Linked DNA regions of Homo sapiens. The protein of the gene in region 3 interacts with the protein of the main gene of each other region in a biochemical or structural test. Each region holds a gene or a part of one and is shown on either strand. Other genes may lie near its edges. The genes, in order: RB1, MBP, MAPK14 and DUSP10.

Region 1 (7,031 bases), on a different chromosome or scaffold from region 3:
CATTATTTAAGAAATCTCAATACACGATCTCTGAAGTTCCTAAAATTCTGGCACTAATTCTAATGTGAACTTAGTAGCAAAAGACCCAGAAATAGTAAGCCCTTGACCTAAAAACTAACTGATTTGTATGATATTCATGCAGAAACAATGATGAAATGGAGTCAAGTTTTCTAGTGTCATTGTTATCAAAATAACTGTCAAAATAGTAAGTTTGAAACTTAAATGAGCACAAAATAAAATTTTGTTTTCTAACAAGACCAGATTTCTTTTTAAAAATAATTCTGAGTTAGACAAAGTGATTTTCCTAAAAGCTAGCTGAAGCTACCTTAAATATCCCCTATTTTAAGTTACAGCATCTCTAAATAAGTTAATCACACAAGATAGTTTAAATACACCTTTAGGTGTAGGGGAGGGGAGAAGCGCCTCTTTTTCTAATGCAGCTGTTTTAATTTGAAGCTTTTGCACAAAATCAGATAGAAACATTAATGCCTAACCCATAATGACCCTTGATTACTTGTAATTTTGGACTAGAAATAATGTGGCTTTGAACATGCCAGTGTTAGACCATACTGACTTAAAAAAATAAAAGATAAATAGACAATTGCCAGTTCAAAAGATACATGGAAGACATGTACCATTCCAGAGAAAACACAAACCTTCCCAAATTAAGGAGGGCAGAATAATTTTGAGATGCAATTAGACAAATCTCTATGAAAAAAAAATTAAGGCTCCTATAATTAACAGTCTGTTTATGGAGTAAAATTAATTTGTATCTTAATTCTTCAGGACCCAGAAACATTAGAAAGTGCACTTGGGATATACTGTGTTAGGGTCCTCTATACCTAAGATCTGGCAGAACACTTTACTTTTTCAAGTACTAGATGGGTACTTTATAAATTCAGTGATCTGAATGGTATAAAAACCAAGAGTACTATCAATAATCCTCATTTAAAAACATAAGTTGGATGAAGAAAATAATCAGTAAGTTCTTTTACATTCTGAGGTATGAAATCTGTTTCAGTAGTATGATAGTATCATATGGTTATACTTTGCTTCCAGCTTTTATTTAATTAAAAGCAAAATTTTATAAAACAAGCACACAGTATATCAGATTCCAATAGTAAAATAAAATCTAATGTGTAAAATTAGTAATTTTTTTCTAATTTCTAATAATATCCATTTTTGCAGAAGAGTTCAGGATAATTTTGGTGAATGGGCAGTCAATCAAATTGCATTTGGAAGATAGATAGGACACATTTTCTAAGGGTGTTCATGTTAAATTAAAAAAATATACATATAAATTAATAAAAACAAGAGCAAACATCACCTATATGCTACAAAAGAAGGCAAAGTAGTCAGACAGGCCTGGGTTATCAGGACTCCCACTCTAGGGCCATTCTTACTATCCATAAAGCACAGCAATTTTACTTTGGAAGAGGAAACAATCTGCTACAACTTTTTAAATGGCAGGATTTACACAAGATTTTCAATCTTGTATAAATAACAATGACTAACATTTCAAGTGGCTTAGGAATCACCCAAACAATTGCATCTGCACATTTTATATCCACAAAAAGAGCTGAAGATATTAAATGTGGCCATAAACAGAACCTGGGAAAGTTATACAGTCACATCTGTGAGAGACAATGAATCCAGAGGTGTACACAGTGTCCACCAAGGTCCTGAGATCCTCATTTCTCTTCCTTGTTTGAGGTATCCATGCTATCATTCATTTTCTGCTTTTGCATTCGTGTTCGAGTAGAAGCTGGAAAAAGGATGAAGAACTGTTAACAGCATTGATGGTACTGGGTAAGTTGGCAAGTGGCTGCCATATATATTATGCTCATGTCAAACTGATGGCGCTCAGGACCTTGCAAAAGCAGTGGTCTTCATTCTAGTATTTGACAGTACCGTAGGGAGTTACAGTTAATTTACTGCATATTTCAAAATAGCTAGAATTGTAATGTTCCCAATGCAAAGAAAAATGTTTGAGGTGATATATATCCCAATAACCCTGATTTGATCATTACACATTGTGTACACGTATCAAAACATCACATGTACCCCTAAAATATGTATAACTATGATATATCAATTAAAAAAAAAATTCCCTCCCCACCCCCCAAAAAAACAGTGGTCTCCAAATCTTTAAAAATCATATATCCCTGTGAGTAAATTTTTTTCCAAGCCTGTACCACAAAAATACGTATGTATGTACAAATTATAAAACACATACCCCAAGCAAACATTAAAATGAGATAAATAGAACTTCTACTTTATGTACCCCAAAAGATGACTTTGCATACTTCAGGTATGCCCCATTTTGTAGGCCACTATTCTAGAGATGAGGTGGTTGATGCTTGGCATATACTTCAGCAGACTAGAATACTCGGCTGGCCCAGACTGAATCTGCCAGAGTGAGTGGTGGTATTCTTTACAAAGCTATAGGTTCCCTTATGTTTGCAGATGCCTTGCAGGTACTGCAAATACATCAAATCATAGCTCATTTAAACTGGGCATGGATTTTTTTTTTTTGAGACAAGGTCTTGCTCTGTTGCCCAAGCTGGAGTGCAGTGGCATGATCATGGCTCACTACAGCTTTGACCTTCTGGGCTCAAGCAATTCTCTCACCTCAGCCTCTCCAGTAGCCAAGACTACAGGCACATGCCACCAGGCCTGGCTAATTTTTGGATTTTTTTGTAAAGATGGGGTCTTGCTATGTTGCCCAGGCTGGTCTTGAACTCCTGGCCTCAAGCAATCCTCTCACCTTGCCCTCCCATAGTGCTGGTATTACAGACATAAGCCATCATGCCTACCCGGGGCATGGCCATGTTAAAAGCATATTATGAATTACAATATAGACAAAGCCGGGATACTTATTAAATTTCTTAAAAATTCTTAACTTGATTTTAGAGGTAGGCATGAGTTCTTTATAAAGAAGCACATTTGGAAAAATGGAATGCCCTTCCATTCTGGGCAATCCAGCATTGTATGATGATCTTTTCTAAATGTAATTCTTTAAGAAAAGCTGAAGAGCATCCTAAAGAAATGCCTTAGCCTCAGGGGTTAAAATTCTGCCTGCTTTGTCACAATTTTGTAGATGCACAAAGGTCCTGAACTTTGGCCTGGCAGAGGAAGCTCGCCATCATAGCTAAGTGTGTCACTGGGAAATGTACTAACTATAGCAACTGAACACTTCTCTAAGAAAATATACATGTTTTTACAGCTTTCAGCTCCTTTTTAAGTGCATATTTGTGGGTTCCAAAATGTTTCCATATGTCTTCAAGGCCTGATTTTGGTTATGAGCCTCTTGTCTATTTTCATGTACTGAGGGGAAAAGATGCAACTATTTAAGAGTTAAAATAGGAATATGTAAGTTGACATAAAATCCAAAAAGAGATTCATTTATAACTAGAAAATTTTGTTTTAGTTATTTAGTTTTAATTACACTTTAAAAAAATACATAGAAAAAAAGCATCCTTTTAAATATCTTATTTTCAAAGTTAGTATCTACAAAGATGTATTAAAAGAAAGCCTCTCATTTTAATTGGTATTGTTCTCATTAGTGTGTCCTGTGACCTAGGAATGATTGTTTTAACACCTATCTCCTGAATATTTGTCTTCTTTCAAAATCCCAGTTCCTTTTCCTATCAATGGATCTGGCAGCAGATACTGGGAAATGTTACACTCACTACCATAACTACCTAAGACAACCCAATAGTAGTTAGTGAACATTTATCTCTTTCCTAATGTGCTTTCCATCTACTATCCTTGGATTATTTTTTTTGTCTAGTCTCAGAGTAGTTTTGAATAGAATTCCACTTACCCTAACATGATATCACTCTGTATAACTTGGAAAATGACATAAGTGTTCTTTATTAAAATTCTGATTTCCAGTAATGGAAACTTTTGTTTGAAATTGTTTTAAGATTTGCAAATAAGGAAAGTTTAAAAATGGTAGAATCAAAGGTTATTCCTTAAATAAGGGTGATGATGTTTACATATGCTAGGTTTATAAAACTTTTCCCTATATCTAACACTCCCAAATAGCTCCTCTTTGTAGTTCTGCTAAAGTATTTTCTAACTGTAGCCATTTGTGTTGAATGTGGTCAAGCAATGTTTCACTTCTTAGTCTTCCTGCATGAAAGATCATAGAAAGGGTAAAAATGACCTTCATTTTACATCATACATTTAATCCACAAATGTTTGTAGATAAATAACCTTGATTGAATTATATTTTAAATGCATAAACAAACCTGCCAACTGAAGAAATTATACATTCTTTTATATAACGAAAAGACTTCTTGCAGTGTAAACAATTGTTTATTTCATTTACACAAGGTGAAAAAAGTACTTACTCATTTCTGCCAGTTTCTGCTGAAATTTGGACTCTCCTGGGAGATGTTTACTGCAGATTAAAAAAATGCAAAACATTTCATGTGTATTTATAAATGGAAAACTCAAATTTCCAGTAACTATGATGCTTTCGATGACTTACTTTATGCTATTATTTTAGTGAGTAGCTTTTAATTTTAAAATTTAAAAACTAACCATCTAAAACATAAATGTCACAAATTTATGATGCTATGTATTTTTTCAGTGGTTCTCACAAAATACAGTGGTTAATATTTTTCAAGAGTAAACATTTTTAAATTTAATGTTAAGAATAACAAAATTTTATCAATAGCTTTGTAAAAAAGATCAGGGTTTATTAGATATCTTCACTGAATGTTGGTATGCAATTTGTAAGATGTTTTTAACTTTGCACTACACTCATATCTATTATTTTGAGCCATTCTCACAACTTCCAAATAAACTTGGCATGAAAGAAATTGGTATAAGCCAGGAGCAGTGCTGAGACTCTGGATTCCCCAGATGACCATCTCGGCTACTGGAAAACATTCAAAACTGGTTCCTACCTTCCATCTGCTTCATCTGATCCTTCAATATCAAAGCGTAGTTTTTTCAGTGGTTTAGGAGGGTTGCTTCCTTCAGCACTTCTTTTGAGCACACGGTCGCTGTTACATACCATCTGATTTATTTTCTGGAACTTCTCAGAAGTCTACAAATTACAGAATTCTTTACTTTAAATCATTAAATGCCAGTGTTTCATAGTTAGCAACCTCAAGTTATAGTTTGAGGTGTGTCAAAAATCAGGCAAAGGTAATAACTTCATTTAAATTTTCTGCTTCATTGGACCAAATAAAAGATATGAAAAATCTAAAAATCAGAATAACTACCTAATTCCATCCCCAATTAAACACCCACTCTTTGTAAATCCTCCTGTCTTTTCCCATGCAGCTCACATTCTTCCTCCAGCAACTGCCTACTCTGCAAGTCCTGGTTCCTCATTTTCAGAACCCACCATACAGGACTACTTTTCAGAAGTAGGCAAGTCAGAACAGCTTTCTGGAAACTTGCTTTTGTCCTTTTTTTGTTTTTTAGGCTATTATACAACCAGAAGGAAGGTCACAAGAATTTGATAAGAGATGATGTGTTCAATGAATAATAATTTTTGATTCACTTTATGGGTATTATGTTGACAAGTCATATAGACTTTCTGATAGAAATTATATCTGATTTGACGGATAGATTCAACAGTGAGGATTAGCTTTGCCAATTATACTTTATTTTCCAAAAATTAAACTAGCGAATTCTCCCAATATTAAATTCAAAACAGGTTTTGATGGTAAATCTATTTGGAGCACATATACAATTTAACAAAAACTAAATCCCGTGCTGCTATTAAATGTATAATATTTTAAATTATCAGCTTTAAGATATGGAAGTACATTCAACTTTTTCCCAATTATTTTAGAGGTTATGGCAAGCAAAAATGTTTGAAGACCACTATGTGATACCTAGCCAGTTCCAACTGTCCTTATAAGGTCCCATAGCTCCTTTGTAAAGTCTGACAGCTGAGCCCATCGTGAACTATTTGTAACACACATTTTAATATTTGGTCATCTGGCATATAAACTTTTACCTCTCCCTAGTTACTTGAGGCAGTGTGGTGGGCAGCCTCTCAGATGGCTCCCAATGACCCCACCTCCTGGTATTCACCTCCTTGTGTGATCCTCCTCCCCTCGTGTGTGGGCTAGATCTACTGTTGTCTTGCTTCTAACCAAAATAATATGCCAAAAGTAATGGGCTGTCATTTCCAGAATTAGATTACAATAAGACTGTGACCTCTCTCTTGCTCTTTATTTCCCTGCCTCCCTCAGAGTCCCTGCTCTGGGCAAAGCAAGCTGCCATGTTGTGAATAGCAAGCAGTACTATGGAGGGGCCCAAGGGCAAGAAACCAATAGAGGGGCCAATAGCCATCGAGGATCAGCCAACAGCCATTTGAATAAGTCTGCCAGTGAATGCTCCTCTAGTGGAGCCTTGAGATGACTGCAGGCCCAGCCCAACTGACACCTTGATCACAGACTTTGGAGAAACTCTGGCCCAGCTAAGTCATGCCTAGATTATTGACCCACAGAAATGGAGATAATAAGCGTTTGTTTTAAGTCACTAAGTTTGGGGGTAATGTATTATGTAGCAACACATAACATAGGCAGTCTTCCCATTCCTATAAGAATATAAGCTCTCTGGCCAGGTGCAGTGGCTCACATCTGTAATCCCAGTTCTTTGGGAGGCTGAGACGGGGTATCGTGGAAGCCAGGAGTTCAATACCAATCTGGCCAACATAGAAAACCCTGTCTCTACAAAAAATTTAAAAATTAGCTGGACATGGTGGTGCATGCCTGTAGTCCTGGCAACTTGGGAGGCTAAGGTGAGAGGACTGCTTGGGCCGAGGAGTTTGAGGTTATAATAAGTAGGTGACAGAGTGAGACACTGTCTCTAAAAATAAAAATTTAAAAATTAAAAATATAAGCTCTCAGGGGAATGGAGATGGTGCAACATATTAACAGTAATGCATATTGAATATGGGACTGCTGAATTAGTGACTTTAATGGAAGGCCAACTAGGGTTGTGGATTTGCAGCCTAGAATAAATGTTTCAAAGCAAAGCTTTCCCTTGGATCTCCT
Region 2 (7,782 bases), on a different chromosome or scaffold from region 3:
GCCTGTAATCCCAGCACTTTGGGAGGCCGAGGTGGGTGGATCACTTGAGGTCAGGAGTTTGAGACCAGCCTGGCCAACATGGTGAGGCCCCATCTTTACTAAAAAACAAAAACAAACAAAAAAACGCAAAAATCAGCCAGGTGTGGTGGTGCGCCCCTATAGTCCCAGCTACTGGGGAGGCTGAGGCAGGAGACTGTTTTGGATCCAGAAGGTGGAGGTTGCAGTGAGCCGAGATTGCACCACTGCACTCCAGCCTGGGTGACAGAGCAAGACTCTGTCAAAAAAAAAAAAAAGAAAAAGAAAAGGAGTAATTAGAATATTTTCTTTTCTTTTTTATTGACAACTAAGAAAGCTAAGGAGAAGATGATGAACAAAGACGGATGACAGTAGCCTTATGGTGAAATCATTCTTGAAAGGAAACCTGTGTGGGACATCTCTGGGTACACTCACTCATCATTGGGGTGGAATTTTAAAAGGAGGAACGAGGAGCACCTTTGCAAGGCATCCTTCTCACCACGGCGGTGCAGAGCAGCAGTCAGGCGCTGGTGCAGACTCCCCGGATGGAATCCCGCCTCTTCTTGTGTGCCCTTAGAGTAACTTAACCTCTCTGGGCCTTGTTTCCTCAACAGTAAAAAATGAAGATATGAATAGGATGGTGACATCCAGTGAGGGCATCCTAGGGCCGTCCCGACTGTTATCCGAGGTGACAAACCGCTCTCAAAAGAGAGTCTGGCAACGTGCAAGCAGTCGATAAACACTCCCAGGCGACAGAAAAGGCACAGAGGCAGCTGCTCATCTTAAGCATGTCATATTTTTAAAGAACTTGGAGGAGGATTAAAAGTCAAACAAAATAACTTACAATTAACATTTACAAATTCAGGCAGAAATAGAAACATCACAAGAAAGTTTGGTCTCTTGTTTTTTTTTTTTCTTTTTTCCCCAGCGTTTCGTGGCTACCTTTAATCAGCGCACACAGCTAGGACCACCACTGACCAAACTCAAACCCGACGTTTTAAATCATGGAGGAGCCATGAGCTACCAGGTGTAAAACAAGCGACGTGTCTTACACTTTCTTATCTTTGGGCAGAACTGTGATACTTCTGGAGGATTTTCAAAGAGGATTTGAACAAAATAGCTTTGTTTAACCCGGAGTTAGTAGAAGTGGTTGTTTCAGAACAGTTAACTCCCTGGGAGTTACTCCAGCATTTACAGCAATTTTTAACTGTGTTCTTTTCCCTCAGATTTCTGTTTTTCCCACAAAAAAAAAAAAAAAACAAAACCTCAAAAAACAAAACACACACACGCGCGCACGCACGCGCACACACACACACACACACACACACACACACACACCCCCTCTGCCGCGGTACCCTTCCCCTGGCCTTCCTCCACTGAAGGGCGGCTGGGTTCCAGGCTCTCAGCCGTGACCACAGCCCCGGCCCCAACCGCTAAGGAGGTGCTCATCACTGGAGGTGGCCGCCAGGGAGCTCAGTGCGGGACCTGCTCAATCCATACGGTCCCCTGACTTGAGGGTGACCGTCCTTAAACTGTCCCCCGGAGCTTCGCCAGATAAAATGTCCAAAACACACACTGGAGTTCCCTGACGTTTCCTTCCTCTGAAAAACTCTCTTTCCAGGCGGGGCGTTCTGTGGTCAGACGAGGCAGAGGCCTCCCCGGAACGAAGTCCACGCCCCCTCCCCACCCCAGCACCCAGCGAGCCCACGCGCCCCTCACCCACGCGCAGAGAAACCGAGCACTTGTTGATTCTCACGTTGTTGCAATTGGAAAACGGAACAAGGAACCAGAGCTCGCCTGTTTCCAGCCAGAGTCGCACGGGGGTCCCCAAAGACGCTTGAACCTTTTCCCAAGCCCCACTCCACCTTCCAAAACGGGGGGGCTCAGGTGGACGCGAAAGGACACAAGGCGCTGCCCCCAGCACCCCGGAAAATCTAGTGTGGCGGCAAATGACCGCAGGTCACACACCCCGGCCTCGGGGGCCACGGAAAACGGACGCACCCGGCCCAGGACAGGCAGTGGGGCCCAGGAGGGGACTGCCGGGAAGACCCGGGCGGGCCGGCGGGCGGCTGCGGGCGGCGCACGTGGGCCCAGGTGGGCGCAGCGACGGGCCCGGCCGAAGAGCCCGAGACAGGCCCTGCGAAGGCGGAAGCCCGGACCCGGGCTCTCCTGGCCGCCCCTGGAGCTCAGAGGGAGACTGCGCTTCGCCCCGGGGGCAGGGGCAGGAGCGCGATCGCGCGCGGGGCCCCCGGGGTGTGATTAGCAGGCGCCGCGAGCCGGGAGGACCCCCCAGCCCGCCCTGGCAGCCAGCACCCTCTCCACACCCGCCCAGAGTGGCCGCTTTTGACCGCCGTCCCCTCCCACCCTAGACTCCTCCCCTCAGCCCCACGGCCCGAGGCCGAGCGGTTTCAGCGACCCTGGGACCGCCGGGCCTGGCTGGAGTCCACCCCTGGACACCTGTCAGGGTCGGGCCCCGGCGCTGTAAACCCGCGTCTACACCCGCGCCCAGCCCCCGCGCAATGGGGATCGGGGGCGGCGACTTGGGTTCGGGTCAGGGAGGCCGCCGGCTGCTACCTGCTCGGCCACCTGCTCCGCTGCCTAGGTTCTCCCTGCGCGTCCCCAGCCAAGAAAGGGACCCGGAGTCCGGGCGTCGGGATAGCTCCTGTCCCCGATCTTGCGCCCCCGGCTCCCGCGGGGCTCCGGTCCGGGGTCCCGCCCAGGTCTCCGCGGTCCCCACTCGGAGGGGCACAGAGACAAAGGCGGCAGAGCAGCCCGCCCGTCCCCGAGGGTCACCCACCGGCGCTGCGCTCGTTGCTCCGAGGCCGAGGGGCGCCGCGGGGTCCAAGGCCCTGCTCCGCCTGCCCAGGCCCGGGCAGGCTGGTCTCGGCTTCAAGCGCCCACGCGCGGGGTCCCCGGGCAGCCTGCTTCGCCTTCCGGGGTCGGGAGACAGGGGCCGCCGGGGCCGGAGGCTGCTTCTCTCTGGCGCGCGGCGGCGGTGACTGACGGCGGCGGCTCCGAGGGACGGGCGCGCACCCAGCTCCCCGGCCCCGCCTCCCCGGGCTTCCTGCGAGCCAGGTAAACACAGGCCGATCCCGCCGGGCCCGCCCCACCTGGACGCGGCCGCCGGCGCCGCCCCGGGAGCTCGGAGGACCCCGGGCCCGCTCTGCCCACGCGGAACTTGGGGGGCGCACGGGGCCCACGCGCAGGGTCAGACCTCGGAGGGGCGGCCTGGAGCCTCGCCCGCTGCCGAACTGGGCTCCGAACTGCGGCCCGTCGACCCTTCCCGTTCGGAGGCTTGGCCTCCGAACCCACCCCGACCCCGACCTCGACCTCGCGGGAGGGGTGCCAGGCCGCATCTCCCCGCGTCCTCAGGGGCTGGAAACCCCAGAAACTGCCGATAGACTTGGCGCAGCCCCGGCCCTGCAGGAGGAGAGTCAGCCCGGCCTGGAGGCGAAAGGAGCCGGCAGGTCCTCCCAAGGCACTCCCTCCCTCCCCTGGAGCCCAGGCCAGGCCCATGTCCGGCTGGCAGGTGCTCCTCTGGGAGCTGGGAGCTGGGAGCTGGGAGCTAGGGGCGCACCTTCTCCTGCAGGACCGGCGCAGGAAGCGTGCGCGGAAAAGACAGCAAAACACGCGCAGGTGCGAGGAAGCAGCCTGGTCCTGCAGCCCAGAGACATCGTGGTCTTCGTCGCTGTCTTGTTAAAAAGAAAAAGCCTGCTGTTTAGCCGTGACTCACCTGCACACAGATTTAGTGGTCAGAGATCTTTCTCTGGATTCTCAGCCTCCTGATGGTGGAAGAGGAGGAGGTTGGGGGAGTCCCAGAATGAGGCCCCGCGTTCCTCCTGACCTACACCCCCAGTCAGGGATCTGGATCTGGAGCTTCCAGGGGACCTGGAGCAGCCTGGGACCCACACAGTTTGTTAGGAAGTGAGGGAGAGGGGTGAGCGCTGTCCCGGCCCGCGCTGGGAGGCGGGACTCAGACTTCAGCACGGGGTCGGGGTTTCGGCCTAAAACCAGCCTCCCCCAAAGCCCCGGAGGATTTAGCAACTGTCTTCAAATGCTGGCAACTGGAAGAGAAATACTTCCACAACGACGCAAAAGCATTCAGTCTGGTCGTTTCCTCAGGAGAGATTTTCAAGTGGAGGGGGCAGGAGGGTTCTGAGACTTTGAGGCTGAAGGTGAGGAGGGAAAAGGGTGCCAAAGATAGTGTGTTTCTCCAATTTTTCTGCCCCACAACCTCACTTTAAGTCAAGGATGAGCGGAGTGGGCGTGGGAGGCTGGACAGCTGCCCTAGGAGCACGGGTGGTGACAATGAACCCGGGTGCACCCAGGTCCCAGCTCAAGTCACTCAAAGCTCAGGCTGGGGAAGCTGGAACACTAAAATGGGTCCCATTTTAGATACCTGCTTTAGCATCAGAAACAGCTTTTCCTCCCCAAAATATCTCTTGGCTTTATCTCAGTGACTCCACAGGGCGGGGCCACCTTCCTGCCTGCAGATGTCCCTGTGTGCTGGGCTCTGGAGCGTCCCTCAGGCCACAGTGACAGCTGCACACGCGGCCTTCTGTTTGGTGCTCCTTCTGCTGGTGTTACAGTGGTTTCCTGAAACACTACATATGCCAACAGTCAGCCCTACAAATGTCAGGCTCCACAAGTTCCAGTTAAAAGTCTTTTTAAAGTATTTATGAAATTTCACCGTGCATATTTTGTTGGGATAGAGTGTCCACACAGATGGGCAGCCAGGCAGTTTAGAAAAGTCATGGATTCTTCAAAGAAAACATGTAGATAATACTATTTAATAAAACAGTGGATTCACATTTGGATCAACTGGTCTTATCTTGGGGGCTTTCATGCCCTCCCGGTTAGAAAAAGGACCCCAGGTTGAGGACAGTGGATGGAAGAAACAGAGGCTGGCATTTCACTGTCGAGAGACAAACTTTCACATGAAGATGTCCATGTAGCCCTCAGCAAAGTGACAGAGATTCGTTGTGCTGAATAAAATTGAAAGGCATCTTTTGACAAGTAACCCATCAAAGCCTCATTGTGTCTTTGACATTTCTAAGAAAATCACATTGCAGTTACCCCCATCTTTCACAAGGTACCGGAGAGCAGAAAGTTTGACCTATCCATCATCTCATATGGCAGCAAATAGCAAAATGTTTTGTGCATGAAATACACTCAATAAATTTTTGTTAAGCTGAATTAAACTCCAAATTACCCAAGCTAAAGGAAGTAAATGAATCTAAATAGTTTCCAACAGACCTCAGACTGCACGAACTTTGAGTTTTCTTTAGTTTCCTCATCAACAGATTTGTCTTTGTTATGATGTTTTGCTTAGGAAAGGACTGAACTTTTTTTTTTCTTTCTTTTTTTTTTTTAGATGGAGTCTTGCTCTGTGGCCCAGGCTGGAGTGCAATGGTGCAATCTCAGCTCACTGCAACCTCCGCCTCCCAGGTTCAGGCAATTCTCCTGCCTCAGCCTCCCGAGTAGCTGGGATTATAGGCAACCGCTACCATGCCCAGCTAATTTTTGTATTTTTAGTAGAGATGGGGTTTCACCACGTTGGCCAGGCTGTTCTCGAACCGCTGACCTCAGGTGATCCACCTGCCTGGGTCTCCCAAAGTCCTGGGATTACAGGCCTGAGCCACCACGCCCGGCCAGGACTGAATATGATTTTCAGACCTGGTCTAAACCTCTCTGAGCCTCAGTCTCTTCATCTGCAGTGTGGAGGTAATAGTCATCCTCATATCAGGGCTGAACACTCTCTTTCTGCAGCTCAGGCATCGGTGGATACCCAGGTGTGGAGGTCTCCCTCATTCATCCAGGGGTTGATCACAGTTGTTTCCAAACAAGTGGTACTTCAGAGGAATTCTGGGCTGGCTCTTCAGACGTTACATCTATTCGCTCTGTTGCAATATATATTCACAACCTCGCCAGTGGGGCTTACTTCCCACGTGAGGGTGTATTAGTCAGCTCAGCTGCTATAACAAAATACCACAGACTGGATGGCTTAAAAACAGATGTTATGCCAGCTCTGGAGCCTGGAAGTCCAAGATGCAGGTGCTGGCGGACTTGGCGTTGGGCGAGAGCTTGCTTCTTGATTCATAAACAGCACCTTCTCTATGTGTGTCGGGTGGTGGAGGGAGAGAAAGAGGAAGGGGAGGAGACTGGGCTGTGGCCTCTTTTTCTTATAAAGACACTAATCCCATTGTGAGGCCACCCTCACGGATTCAATCTAAGCCGAACTATCTTTCAAAGACCCCATGTCCAAATACCATTCCCTGGGGGTTGCGGCTTTGACATATGAATTTTGGGGGGATAGATGTGCAGTCCTTAATAGAGGGTTAGATTAAGACATAGGGAAAAAAAGGAATGAATACTCAGCTTCCAATCTAGTTAACAGAGTTCCCTGCGGGGGGTGGTGGAATGAGTGCCAGCCTCCCCAGGAGCTGGGAAGGAGCTGGACTGGGCAGGAATAGAGTGAGGGATAGGAGAGCCTTAGCCAGGTCTGTGGGGTGGGTGGGGGTTGTGTGTGTGCTGGACTTTGTGCTACATTTGATGCTCCTATAACAAGGGGATTAAATGTGACATCTTAATAACCAGCCCCAGGAAGCAGCCCGAGAGGACGGGAGGGTTGCCGGGAAGTCCAGAGCATGCACAGTGTGAATGTGCATGGGAGCCATGGCAGACCCCAGAGGGAGCCAGGAAAGGCTGTGAGGAGACAGCGGCCCTGTTGCAGGGGTGGGGTCAGCAGCCAGCTCTGAGGGAGGGAGACGGGCCCTGGAGGGAGGGGCTCAGAGGCAGGGTGAGTGGGAACCAGGAGGGCTTGGCCCTGGCTTTGGGGACCTCCCACTTCTGACCCAGACCTGCCTCCACGGTGCCCCTCCTGCCTCCACGTTCTTCCTGTACCAGGCTTCCTTTCTCTGGAGTTTGTCCTCAAAGGTGGAAAAACTGTGTTTCTACAGTGAAAGTTCACTGTTAAGGGTTGAACTGTGTCCCCGAAGAGAGAACTCGAAGTCCTGACCACCTAATACCTGGGAAAGTGACTGTGCTTTGAAATAGCCTTTGCTAGTGTCATCAGGTGGAGATGAGGTCCTTGGGGGGGTCCGGTGCGGTGGCCATGTCCTTGTAAGCAGAGGGGACACTCAGAGGGAAGAGGCCACATGGAGACAGAGGCAGAAGTGAGAGTCATACATCCCGGAGCTGAGGGATGCTGGGGGCAGCAGAAGCTGGGAGAGGCACGGAGGGACCCTCCCCTGCAGCCCCTGGCAGGAGCACAGCGCTGGCCACACCTGGATTTCATACTCCTGGCCTCCAGACTGAGAAGCTACATTTCTGTTGTGAAGCCTCCCAGATGGTGACTTTCTGTTACAGCAGGGCCAGGCAACGAGAGCCAATCCCTCCAGGGGGAAAAACGGGCGTCCGCGCGTTCACTCTACAAAGCCTTTAGTTAAAGTGGAAATCAAGCAACTTGGCCACAAAAGTCATGAGGTGTGGGAGGAAGGTGAGCAGAGGAGACTGAGGAGGACCACAGGGCAAGGCCTTGGGAGCCATTGTGGGGAGTGAGGTCAGGGGTCAGAAGTCAGGGCCTCTGCTGGTTCCCATCCATGGCTCCAACCACCCAAACCTCCTCTCTGAAGCTGTGCCCAGACAGCCCAGGGCAACACCTGGCCTCCTCTCCCCACCTGCAGGCTCCTAGCGCCCTCCAGGTTCACAAACCCCGGGGGACAGTGTCAGGCCACCCCACAGGAGAGACCCACCCCCTGCTGCCTG
Region 3 (3,960 bases):
AGGCTGAGCCCCACAATCCACCCTGGGACACCTGCTGGGTGTCATTCCAAGGACACCAAGAAAGGAAGCACATCAGCAAAGTCCCTGAGAACTCAGCTGTGAGACCCCGTGGCTCTTTCATCCCGTGATGCAATTCAGTCATTCTGAAGAATATTTTCAAGGACCGTAGCCAGCTAAGACAAAACAGAGTCATAAAATACATTCGCCTAAAAGCTTACAAACAATGTACACCTATATATACAAACCAAACCTTCTCTCTGGCAGTTTTATAATAAAAATATATGGCTTATAGATAGTCTCAAATGTCAAAGATGAAAAAAACCTGAACTTCACTTTATAGATGAGAAAACTGTAGCCCTGGGCCAAGGGTCAGCAGACTTCTCTAAAGGGCCAGATGGTAAATGGTTGACATTTTGGAGGTCCTATAGTCTCTGCTGCAACTATTTGCCTCTGTCACTGTAGCACAAAAGCAGCCACAGACAATACATAAACAGATGAGTGCGGCTCTGTTCTCATAAAACTTTATTTATGGATACTGGAATTTAAGTTTTACATTACTTACATCACATGCTACAAAATCTACTACTTCTTTTTTTTTCTTTCCCAACCATTTAAAAATGTAAAAGCCATTCTTAGCAGGCTACACCAAACAGGTGGTGGGCCAGATTTGGCCCTCAGGCCACAGTCTGCTGAGCCCTGTCATTTCGGCCACTCTTACACTCGAGTGTAGATAAGACAGGCCCCAATGCTTAATACTTCGTTCATTTGCTCTTTGCTTTACCCATCCACAGCAAAGACCTGGATACTCTTCACCAAAAAATGTACAACTAAGAAGCTTTATCAACATTTTCTAAATGTTAGGAGTAGTATTAAGATCTGTCAGACAAGTATGCCAGGTCACAGTTTAAAGGATATTGATATAATGCCATATTGTGCATTAAATAAAAACAAGAGAAAAATATAATAAACTTGAGAAACTCACTAAATTTGAAAAATAGGCTTTATTTTAACCAGTGGTATTGTCTGACATCCTATACGGCATAACTGATTACAGCCAAGTTCATGAATACAAATAAAATAGCAATTTCCCTCATTCTCTCTTTTGTTTTCTGTTCAGAGAAATCAGGAGATGGGAGCATTATGCTCAGAAACCGAAGAGCTCTTCCAAGAGCTCCAGCTTAGAGTCCAGGCTTCCAGAGCATGCAGCCTCCTAACACGTATGTGGTCACATGTGCAAAGACCTTTATTACAAAATATTCAGAGCAGTATTTCTGTAGGAAATCACACGAGCATTTACAACCAAACATGGCTGATAAAATTCATCTTGCTGTGGATGGTGAGGATTTGAACTGCAATAAAGGAGATGAGGCCTTTACTTTAAAGGTTCACTTTCCTTGAAAGGGGGAGAGTCCCGGGTGAGAGGGAATCGCCATCAGTCTGCCTCCTTCCTTCTTGCTCCAGTTGACTCAGGGGGTCCACCCTGTCCCTCTGGAGTACATGTATCACTGCACTGATTGAGAAATGGAAACACCTTGGCCCAAATACAAGATTCTGTCACACAGCCAACACTGGAAGTGACTTTATACTTTCTTATTACACAAAAGGCTTAAATATATGAGTCCTCATGTAGAACAAAATGCCTGAAATTCAGCAAGTTATGAAAACGACACTTCTCCACCCCTGAGGATATTTTATCTTTATAAAGTTGAAAATACAAAATATTAAAATAATTTGCCCTTTCTCCCCATCAAAAGGAATCACATTCTCAAAGGATTCCTACAATATACAAAATTCTGAAACAAAATTTATTTCTCCCCAAACCAAGAAGTCAATGTTAAGCTGCCAAGAAGACCCTTTTCCATAGGAGTGGAAAAGACACCTTGTTACTTTTTTATTTTAAAGTAATCATATTTAGAGAAAGACAGCAAAAGGAGTTTCTGGCCTTATGGGCTTTAATTTTTTACTTTGATTTTCAGCATTTCTTAGCATTAGTTATTGGGAGTGAAGAGAATAACTTGTTTCCGAAGTTTGGGATATTCCTGGGAAAAGCCCTGGTCTTTTCCCATGATAATTCCTCAAAAATAGTTGGTTGAAAACAGATGGCATGAATAAAAATGCTATACATCCACCTGTTCCTCTTTTCATGATTTTCACATCAAAAGCACCTGAAGTATCAATTGTGTTCAACACAGAATAGCACTAGGGGCTGAAGAGAGGTGATATCACTTGCCATAATATCAGCTGAGGTGACATGGGATCTAAACTACCCAAGAAGTCTTCACTGGCAAACCTGCCTGACACCAGGGCCTCCTGAAGAGAGCAGGACAAGCAGCTGTGCATGCTCAAATAGCAAGACGTGCAAAACACATCCTCACTCTGCTAGAAATAAAGAGTACACAGGAAGTACATGACATCAAGAACCTGCTTCTGACTACTGGGGCAGATATTCAAGAAACCTCTGCACCAAAGGTGAAGGGTAAGCAGAGAAATGGCAACACCTGGGGGTGAGGGAGAAAGAGAGACGCACATATACGCATGTGCTCACATGCACACATGACCGCCTATGAAGGCTGCCTGATTACTCCGGGCCCACAAGCAGCTGTCCAACAGCCCTCTCGACTTGCCCGGCTCAGAACTTCAGCAGCTGCAGTCTTTTAACTATCTACACTTTCTTCTCTCCTTTTAAGGCACAAACATATTTACAGTTTCAAATATACTGTCAAGATCTGAGAACCATACTAAGCAAGTTAATCACAGGCTAGTGCACAGAAGCCAGTTGGTCCTTTTTGGCTGTACGTATCACTGAGGGACGGTGTCAGGTCTGAAGCAACCAGAAGGTATGGGCCTTCTCTCCGTGCCACTGTGGGATGTTGTCAAGTCTACGCCCCACCGTCAAGGTGGGGTCACAGGAGAAGCCAAAGTGGCAAAAGCATGACCGGGATTGGGGACAATTCATATTTTTTTACTTTGCATTGAACATATTCCTAAAAGGACAGCAGCTCTTGTCTGCCTGAGCCAACTCTCAGAAAGAAGAGCAAGGTGGAGGCTGCCCTGGAGCATCCACAACCTCCTGTAAAGTCACTGTGATCATAGTTTGTTCATATTGTCTTACCCTCCCACAAAGACAGACACACACATGCACACACACTAACACGCACGCACACGCACGCACACCCCCTTCCACCATGGAGGAAATCTCTGCAACAAGAGGCACTTGAATAATATTTGGAGAGTTCCCGTGAAAAGGCCTTCCCCTCACAGTGAAGTGGGATCAACAGAACAGAAACCAGGTGCTCAGGACTCCATCTCTTCTTGGTCAAGGGGTGGTGGCACAAAGCTGATGACTTCATCATAGGTCAGGCCTAGAAATTGGGAAGGAAAAGTAAGATGTGAGAGTTTAGGCTATTCTCTTTGCTGGCAAGCACTCTGACTTCTAAGCTCAAGATCCTTCCTCTCTGTCCAGGTAGTGGTTTGATGGGCTACCTCACAGCTTGTATGTAATAGCCTACTGGAACACGTTATCACACAGAAGTTCAAGGGACATAGAAAAGAACCATTTTTTTTCTCATGTTTTTCATCGCTGAGTGCCTCTTCTTTTAAGCTCTCTACGGAGGTGCTCAAGAATGAAAGAGCACTCTCACAAGCTACAGCAACAGATGGTCTTGGCTCTTGGGATTTAACTAGAGTTCTGAACTTGTGTTTTGTGGAAAGAATATGGGACTGGACACAGGATACATGGGTTCCATTCCTGGCTATGTCCCTAACTAGTTCTAAGTTAACTGATAAGACATAAATTCTCTTTGCCCCAGTTCTACTAATTGTAAAACTGTAAAAGCTCAGAGAGATGTTGTAAATGCAATGACTCTGAAAACCTCAACTCTCCATGCAAAACTCCTATGTGAGGGGCTGTGCATAAAATCAGACCAGACATAAGTATCTCAAAGGTCCAGAGAGTATCAC
Region 4 (7,693 bases), on a different chromosome or scaffold from region 3:
CCCTGCCTCTGTTTCCATCATTACAGTAGCCACTGTCTTAGTCCAGTTGTGCCGCTATAACAAAATACCTGAGACTGGGGAAGTTGTAAGGAACAGAAATTTATTGCTCACATGAGTTCTGGAGGCTGGGAAGTCCAAGATCAAGGTGCCATCTGCAGGTTCACTGCCTGGTGAGGGTCCAATCTCTGATTTCAAGATAGCACCTTGTTGCTGTGTCCCCACAGGGGAATGGAAGAAAACTAACTCACTCCCTGAAGCCCTTTTGTAATGGCCCTAATCCCTTCCATGAGGCCTCTGCCCTCATGACTTAACCACCTCCAAAAGGCCTCATCTCTTAATAGTGTCACACTGGTGATTAAGTTTCAACATGTATTTTGGGGGAACATTCAAACCATAGCAGCTCCTTCCTTCAGGGAACACTTCTTATCAGCCCTTCCCTAGGCCTGGAGAGTGTTGCTGGATGTTTTGCCAGGCTGGTCTCAATGACCTCAAACACTTACCATGCCACTTTCCTATTCCTCAGCTTATTCCCCACTCCTTCTGGTATAATATCATCTTTATCCTGGATGATTTTTAAGTTTTCTCCAAGCCATTCTCTGCCTTAATTCTAGTACCTCCAGAAATCTATCTTGACCTTGAGGATTATTTTGAAGGCCCCACCTTCTGCCATTACCCCACACACTTAACCATTTAAGTGCACAAAAAAGAAGTAATTTAATTAATACATTTGCTAAATACTATCCATATTATATCTTATATGTTGGCCTAAGTTATTGTCATCTTTTGACTTTAATACATAGTACTTCAGCTGAAACAGTCAATATTTTTCTTATGATGTTTGTGGGAACAAAGATATGCTCAATACAATCATGTTACAACATCCAGACTGAATGAAGATGCTTCACTCTTTCTTTGGGACTGAAACTAACATTAACGCTCTGCTGCTGGTTATTGATATACAGATCAGATTTGTAGCCATTGGCTGACTAGCATTACGAATTTAAGTCTCAGGGCATTATATTTCAGTGTAGTATTTTCACATTTATCGCTCAAAAACAGGAATAAAATCACTTCTTCTTGTCCAAAAGATGTTCTGAAGAGTAGTGAATGGAAAAAAATTCCATCTATAATCTGATTTTTTTCACCAGTCTTATGACTTGAATATAAACTTAGAGATGCCTAACTTAAAAAATAACTACAACTTTGCTTATATTCATAATCTGGTAATTATTCCACATTTCAGGCTTGATATATGATAAGGAATTTTGCCATCTTTCCCAATGTTTCAGCCTGGATGGCTTAGATTCTTAGTCAACTAAATTATAATAATCTACTACTTTGAAACTATAATAAAACAATCATCTCATTACAAGAGTTACATTTCTTCTTGAAATTACTTTTCCATTTTGGGCCTTGTGGGAAAAGCTGTTAAGAACTCTTCTGCAATTGTATAAATCTATACTTTGGGCTTAGATGTTGAGGCATTAGAAATGAATTCATCATTTATAGATCATATATACCTTTAAAGATAGGCACCTTATTTCCTAAAGCAAGTAAATTAATTTTTTTTTCCACTGAATGCCTTTTATCAGCAGGGGATCTTTTTTCCCCCCTGAGCGCTTGAATGAGTTCCCTTTTTCTTCTGAGTTGGGGTATTACCATTCTATGGATAAATGAAGACAGAGACTGGATGAACAGATATAACAGATAGAGTCAGAATCAGAACTTAGAACTCTCAAACTCTGAGTTAATGAAAAATTTTCCCATAATTGTCTATGTTTAGGGAAAGGTAAGCTTTCAGCCTTCCAGCTCCAGATAGATCAAGGGTAGAACCTCTGGGAAGTTCTTTTCTGATTTGTATAGAAATTACCCAGAACCCAAGTTTCCTGACCATAACCTGTTGATCTTCAAACATTTAAGAACCAAATGGTGTGCCCTAAGCACTCTGCTATTATCAGGAGGGTGAATTGACGTGTGTGTTGGTGTGTGGATGGAGAGAGGTGTAAACCAAAAATAAAATTCTAAGCACCCCCCACGCCCCACCCCCTGCCCACCCCGCCTTCCCAGGCAACCCTCTGAACGGACTAATTTGTCAACCAGGGCTCTTGTAAAATTTATCCTGAAAGACTGGTTCAGGCCATGAAGGGATGTGAGGGTGGGACGTGCCCCATTCATTATATATCAACCAACGGACTAATTTCTCAACCCAGGCTCCTGTAAAATTTATCCTGAAAGACTGGTTCAGGCCATGAGGGGAAGTGAGGGTGGGATGAGCCCTGTTATATATCAACATGGAGTTCAAGTCTGATAAGAAACATTTTACAACCTATTGTCTCTGAACCTGCTGCCTGGAGACTTCATCTGCATAATAAAACTTTGGTCCCCACAAGCTCTTATCTTAACCCATACGTTCCTTTCTTTGATCTCAGGTCTTTAGACAAACTCAACCAATTGTCAACCAGAAAATGTTTAAATTTACCTATAGCCTGAAAGCCCACCCGCTCCTTAGAGTTGTCCAGCCTTTTTGGACCAAACCAATGTATTTCTTAAATGTATTTGATTGATGTCTCATGCCTCCCTAAAATGTATAAAACCAAGCTGGACCCCAACCACCTTGGGCACGTGCTCAGGACCTCCTGAGGGCTGTGTCACAGGCCATGGTCACTCATATTTGGCTCAGAATAAATCTCTTCAAATATTTTACAGAGTTTGACTATTTTCGACAACAGACGTTACACAAAATCCTCTCCTATGTAAGACTATCGGATGTGTACGTGATGCCCGTCGTAACACTGGTGTGAAAAGCTGGACTGGGGGGTATGTGCCTGCATGTAAGTGGAGGTGCCCAAGGGGATTTCTCTTCACAGCTCATTGAGCATAGCTGACTTGCTAGCTATGGTCTGACACCTCCTGATTTCAGATCTGCCCTGAAAACAATTACATGAATATGCCCCTGCTACTCAGTATACTACTAGGCTTGGAGTCTGAAGTAGACCTCCAAACCCCATCCAATCAGGTAAGGGAGAAAAACGATAGCCCAACATTCCCTAGTGCTCATAATGTATTATTCCATTATTTCACTTTTTATCCCTTCTCTCACAGATAAGAAAAGAAAAAGCTCTACTTCTTTAGGGTTCTTGGACGTAGACTCTCCACAGTTCATCTGGGGTTGTTCATCTCCACTTCTTTTTGTATCCCAGGGCAACTTTCCTGCAGTTTCCCTAATGAGAATATTTTCCGGACTAGGCAAGGGGCGGCTTGCCCCGCCCCCTACTCTTCTCCCTGATCAGGAGCTGCGGCCAGCTACCTGGCGCCGGCCAAAGTCAGGGGAGCGGGGAGAGGCGGCGTCACCTCCTCCACGCTCCTCCGGCCCCATTCAATCTAGCTATTTGCACTCGGCTCTGGCTCTTTTCCGCCAGCTGCGGCTGTTCCAGAAGCGCCGGGCTGCCGGTCCTGGCCTCGGCAGGGGCCGTGCGGGACCGAGGGGTGGCGGCCGAGGCATGTGGGGCGGGTGGGTTGCGCGCTGCTGGCACGGCGCGGGGACCCAGCGCGCCAGGCGGGAAAGGGGGGCGGCGGCGGGCGGGGACCCAGACCCGGAGGGGCAGCGGGCGCGTAGCGGGCCCCAGGACGCCCGGCCAGGGGATTGGCCTCTGCACCGCTGCTCAGGGCGCGTCCCTTGCCGCCTCTGGCGTCGACTCAAGCCTCCTCCTCCGAGCAGCCCTCAGTGGCGCCGCCTTAGTGCTCTGGGTCGAGCCCCGGGAGGGTTAGCCTGGGGACGGCAGGGGCGTGACCGTGGCGCGGAAGTAGGTGAGCAGCAGGGCGGCGCGCGGCGGTCAGGCCGGGACAGCCAGAGGGGCAGCGACATCTGCGGGCGGGCGGGCGGGAGGCGGACGCTTCCCGGGCGGAGCAGGGCCCTCCGGAGGACGCAGGCCGCGTCGAGGCTGAAGGGCCTCCCTGTCCGGGACGGTCAGCTGCCAAGTTCGGGCCCTTAGCGCGTGGCCCCGGGCCGCGGCTCGGAGCGGAAGCGTCGCCCCTGGCTGCGCGCTCATGCTGGTCCTAGCGCAGAAGACCCGGCGAGGTCCGCGAATTTTGGCTTAGCGTTTGTCAAGTCACCTCGAGCGACTCGGAGAGAACCCGGCTTTCCCACTAGGGACGGTGATCGCAGTCTCTTTCCTTTAGAAAGTTACTCCGATACTTTTGATCATCTGTCCATAGTAAGGAGGAAAAATAGCGTGGTTTGTCCCCGGGTGAGGGAGTGTTGGAGGATCCCGTCCAGTGGGAAGAGCCAGTTTTAGCGGAGCAGCGCGTCCAGCCCGCTGACACTTCAGCCTGGTAAAGGGTTAACTGCATCCTGCCGGTTCGGTTTACATGTAAATAGAGAGCAGCTGCTCCGCGCGGCCCCGGCTGGCTCTTTTAAGTTTTTGATTGGTTGCCAATGACATCACCGCCCGTGTTTTAACACCGAGGACCCAGAGCAGCTTCGGATAAACCCTCCTTAAAGAGATGAGGCCACGCCTTCTTACCCGCCCCCTAGGCTGCCCATTGGTCGCGGGGCTCTGTGAGGTAGCGGTCGGCTTTCTCCGGATTCTTATTGGCCCAACCCGCCGTCGGTCGGCGGCGAGTCCGCCCCCTCAGAACCTTACATTTACAGTGTAGCAAAAGAGAAAGTAACTATGTTGCTGCTGGAGATCAATGAAGCCGAGTGAATGGGGGCTGAATGTGCGAGTCCATAGCTGAAGAGGAGCGCCAGATGGTGGAGGAATACACTTATTTATGAAGTAAGTGGAAGTCACCGCGACTACTCCTGAGAGCCCGGGACTGGAGGTGGAGGATTGTAAGGCGGTGCTTGTGTGAGTGTGAGTGTGTGTGTTTGTGTGTGTGTATCTGTGTGTGTGTGAGAGAGAGACAGAGACAGAAAGATAGAGATGCGATGCTGACGGAGGAGCTACAGCAGGTAGGGTTATAAGGTTCCGGCCGTTGGCTCCTGCTACCCTGTGCGTTTACTCCCTGCAGTCTACTTGGATTTGGGGCGAAGAAAAAATGAGGTTTGTTGGGATGCTTTGCGGCAGTTTTAAATGCTCGGGGCTCATTAGTGCGCTGTGTGCCGAGGAGTGAAGCGGGGGGCGGGGGGATGTTAAGTGCTCCAGGAATGGGGAAGAAGCATTCTCTAACCACTTAATTTTCTCTCCAGCTCTTGCCTAGTGGTGGAAGGGAGAGGGGATAGCTCAGTATTTCTCTGGGAGATTTTCTGGGCCAGACTGGATGGTTTCACGGGCAGTATGTACGCCCGACCCTCTGCTGCAGGGATGCAGGTCTCTCTATACACTCCGTGTGTGTGTGTGTGAGCCTTGAACTCTGTGTGGAGGTGGGGGTCCCAGCGCGTGTCTCTGTGAACACGCTTATGCGTCCCTCTCAGAAGAAATGGTATGTTGATCCTGGACGTGTCCTACCAGGTAACACAATAGCAAAGACTTTCACCGCTTGGTCCAACCGGGAAACAGTTATAGCTTCTGGAATAGAACTCGCTCTTCAGAAAAAATACTACGCAAGGGAAGGGGGGTTGACTCCTTCGCTCCCATCCAAAGGTGGGTGAGAGAAACCCGAGTCGTTGGAGATCTGCCGACGTGATGGGTGCGTGCCCCGTGTGCGCGCGTGAGTGTGGATTCCGCCTGTGACACTTTGGTTCTGTGTCAGAGAATGGTGACGGTCGTGTGTAGACGGATGAGAATGGTGACGGTCGTGTGTAGACGGATGATAGATGGCATTTTTCCTGATAGCTCTTAAAGTTCGTTTAGGTGAGCGTCTCTTGGCGTGGGGTTTGGCGTCTTTGCTATGTGCATGTCTAATAGAAGAAGAAGAGTTAGCAAGCCTGAGTTGTAGAGTGCCCCTGTGCCTACAGGAGGAAGGAGCTGTCTTTTTGCAGACACTCTGAAATCAGAGATAGATCCGGTGGGCAACAATTCACTGTCCCTTTCAACGAGTACAGGCTAATTGGGAGGTCCTCTTTACGGAATCAGTACTCTTGAAGGGGGGATATCTGTATGGGATTGAAACCTTATACAACGTGGCTGCCTCCCATTGAGAGAAGCTCTAGGATGCACAGTCTGTGCCAGCCAGGGAGATGAAGAGGGGAGGAGAGCCCAAGTTGTCCTTTCCAGGCAGGAATGAGGGCGGGGGCAGGTGAGAGAGCAAAGGGTGAGGGATTTGCCGGGGCTGGGGTTTCCAGGTTTCCAGATCTGGCTCCATGGCTTGAGATTTCGTTTTAGGACACCAGTTAGTAGTGAAAAGGGGAAATGCAGATTAATTTATAAGAGGCCAAAAGACAACATGTGAGGTTTTAGTATGACTATGTTGTGCTTTTCAAAGGACCCCAATAGAGAATGGAAGGCAAGAATAGCTCCAAGTTAAAGAGATTCACTTAAGGGGATTTGCAGAAAGTTGACATCCACCCTGATGTATATTTAGCTGCTGTACCTTTCTGTGAACCATGCCAGTGCTCTTGGTTACCCCTTTGCCTTTGCAGCGAGTGAGGGAATTAAATGGCAAGCATGCAAGGGTGGACAAATGGGTCTTTCTCAGATGTTTGCAGTGTACTTCTGCCCGAGAGCTGAGGTTCAGAATAGATGCCTCTTAAGAGCCTCCCTTCTGTCTTCAGCTTTTCTAATTATTTGTGCTTATACCTTCTCTACAGCTGAACTTTTATGTAGGTCCAGGAAAGGTTGTTCATTAACATTTACAACATTACATCCAAATTTAACCTTAGACTTAGCAACCAAATTGATTGGAGCCCTCAGGTTTGCATCCTCTTTGAATACATAAAAATGAATTTCAAGTTTTGATAATGGTATGATAAAGGGCAATTAGGACGACTTTGCTCAGAGGGATGCAAAGGTCTTTCCCAGGGATTGGATGAGACTGCCTTTTGTGTCACGTGACTTTATTCTTTCTTTCCCCCTTCCCCTTCTTTACAGACTGTCTTGAGTTCTTCTTGAATTGCCAGTTTTCAGCCTCCTCATGCCTCCGTCTCCTTTAGACGACAGGGTAGTAGTGGCACTATCTAGGCCCGTCCGACCTCAGGATCTCAACCTTTGTTTAGACTCTAGTTACCTTGGCTCTGCCAACCCAGGCAGTAACAGCCACCCTCCTGTCATCGCCACCACCGTTGTGTCCCTCAAGGCTGCGAATCTGACGTATATGCCCTCATCCAGCGGCTCTGCCCGCTCGCTGAATTGTGGATGCAGCAGTGCCAGCTGCTGCACTGTGGCAACCTACGACAAGGACAATCAGGCCCAAACCCAAGCCATTGCCGCTGGCACCACCACCACTGCCATCGGAACCTCTACCACCTGCCCTGCTAACCAGATGGTCAACAATAATGAGAATACAGGCTCTCTAAGTCCATCAAGTGGGGTGGGCAGCCCTGTGTCAGGGACCCCCAAGCAGCTAGCCAGCATCAAAATAATCTACCCCAATGACTTGGCAAAGAAGATGACCAAATGCAGCAAGAGTCACCTGCCGAGTCAGGGCCCTGTCATCATTGACTGCAGGCCCTTCATGGAGTACAACAAGAGTCACATCCAAGGAGCTGTCCACATTAACTGTGCCGATAAGATCAGCCGGCGGAGACTGCAGCAGGGCAAGATCACTGTCCTAGACTTGATTTCCTGTAGGGAAGGCAAGGACTCTTTCAAGA

The links.
Region 1: of the proteins of MAPK14 (region 3) and RB1, one has a biochemical effect on the other in vitro, tested with the Homo sapiens proteins (3 studies listed by BioGRID and IntAct).
Region 2: of the proteins of MAPK14 (region 3) and MBP, one has a biochemical effect on the other in vitro, tested with the Homo sapiens proteins (4 studies listed by BioGRID).
Region 4: the proteins of MAPK14 (region 3) and DUSP10 form a complex in vitro, tested with the Homo sapiens proteins (2 studies listed by BioGRID, with this or other methods).

What each region holds. Positions count from the first base shown.
Region 1 is NC_000013.11:48,474,732-48,481,762, reverse strand, and holds part of RB1 (retinoblastoma-associated protein), read right to left. Parts: intron 5,314-7,031; exon of another isoform or gene 5,241-5,313; intron 5,063-5,240; coding exon 4,920-5,062; intron 4,409-4,919; coding exon 4,359-4,408; intron 1,785-4,358; coding exon of another isoform or gene 1,766-1,784; coding exon 1,692-1,765; 3' UTR 1-1,691. UniProt on the Homo sapiens protein: Tumor suppressor that is a key regulator of the G1/S transition of the cell cycle. The hypophosphorylated form binds transcription regulators of the E2F family, preventing transcription of E2F-responsive genes.
Region 2 is NC_000018.10:77,129,768-77,137,549, forward strand, and holds the start of MBP (Golli-MBP), read right to left. Parts: upstream 3,017-7,782; 5' UTR 2,813-3,016; exon of another isoform or gene 1-2,812. UniProt on the Homo sapiens protein: The classic group of MBP isoforms (isoform 4-isoform 14) are with PLP the most abundant protein components of the myelin membrane in the CNS. They have a role in both its formation and stabilization.
Region 3 is NC_000006.12:36,107,782-36,111,741, reverse strand, and holds the end of MAPK14 (mitogen-activated protein kinase 14), read right to left. Parts: intron 3,363-3,960; coding exon 3,295-3,362; 3' UTR 506-3,294; downstream 1-505. UniProt on the Homo sapiens protein: Serine/threonine kinase which acts as an essential component of the MAP kinase signal transduction pathway.
Region 4 is NC_000001.11:221,739,066-221,746,758, reverse strand, and holds the start of DUSP10 (dual specificity protein phosphatase 10), read left to right. Parts: upstream 1-4,669; 5' UTR 4,670-4,778; intron 4,779-6,971; 5' UTR 6,972-7,014; coding exon 7,015-7,693. UniProt on the Homo sapiens protein: Protein phosphatase involved in the inactivation of MAP kinases. Has a specificity for the MAPK11/MAPK12/MAPK13/MAPK14 subfamily. It preferably dephosphorylates p38.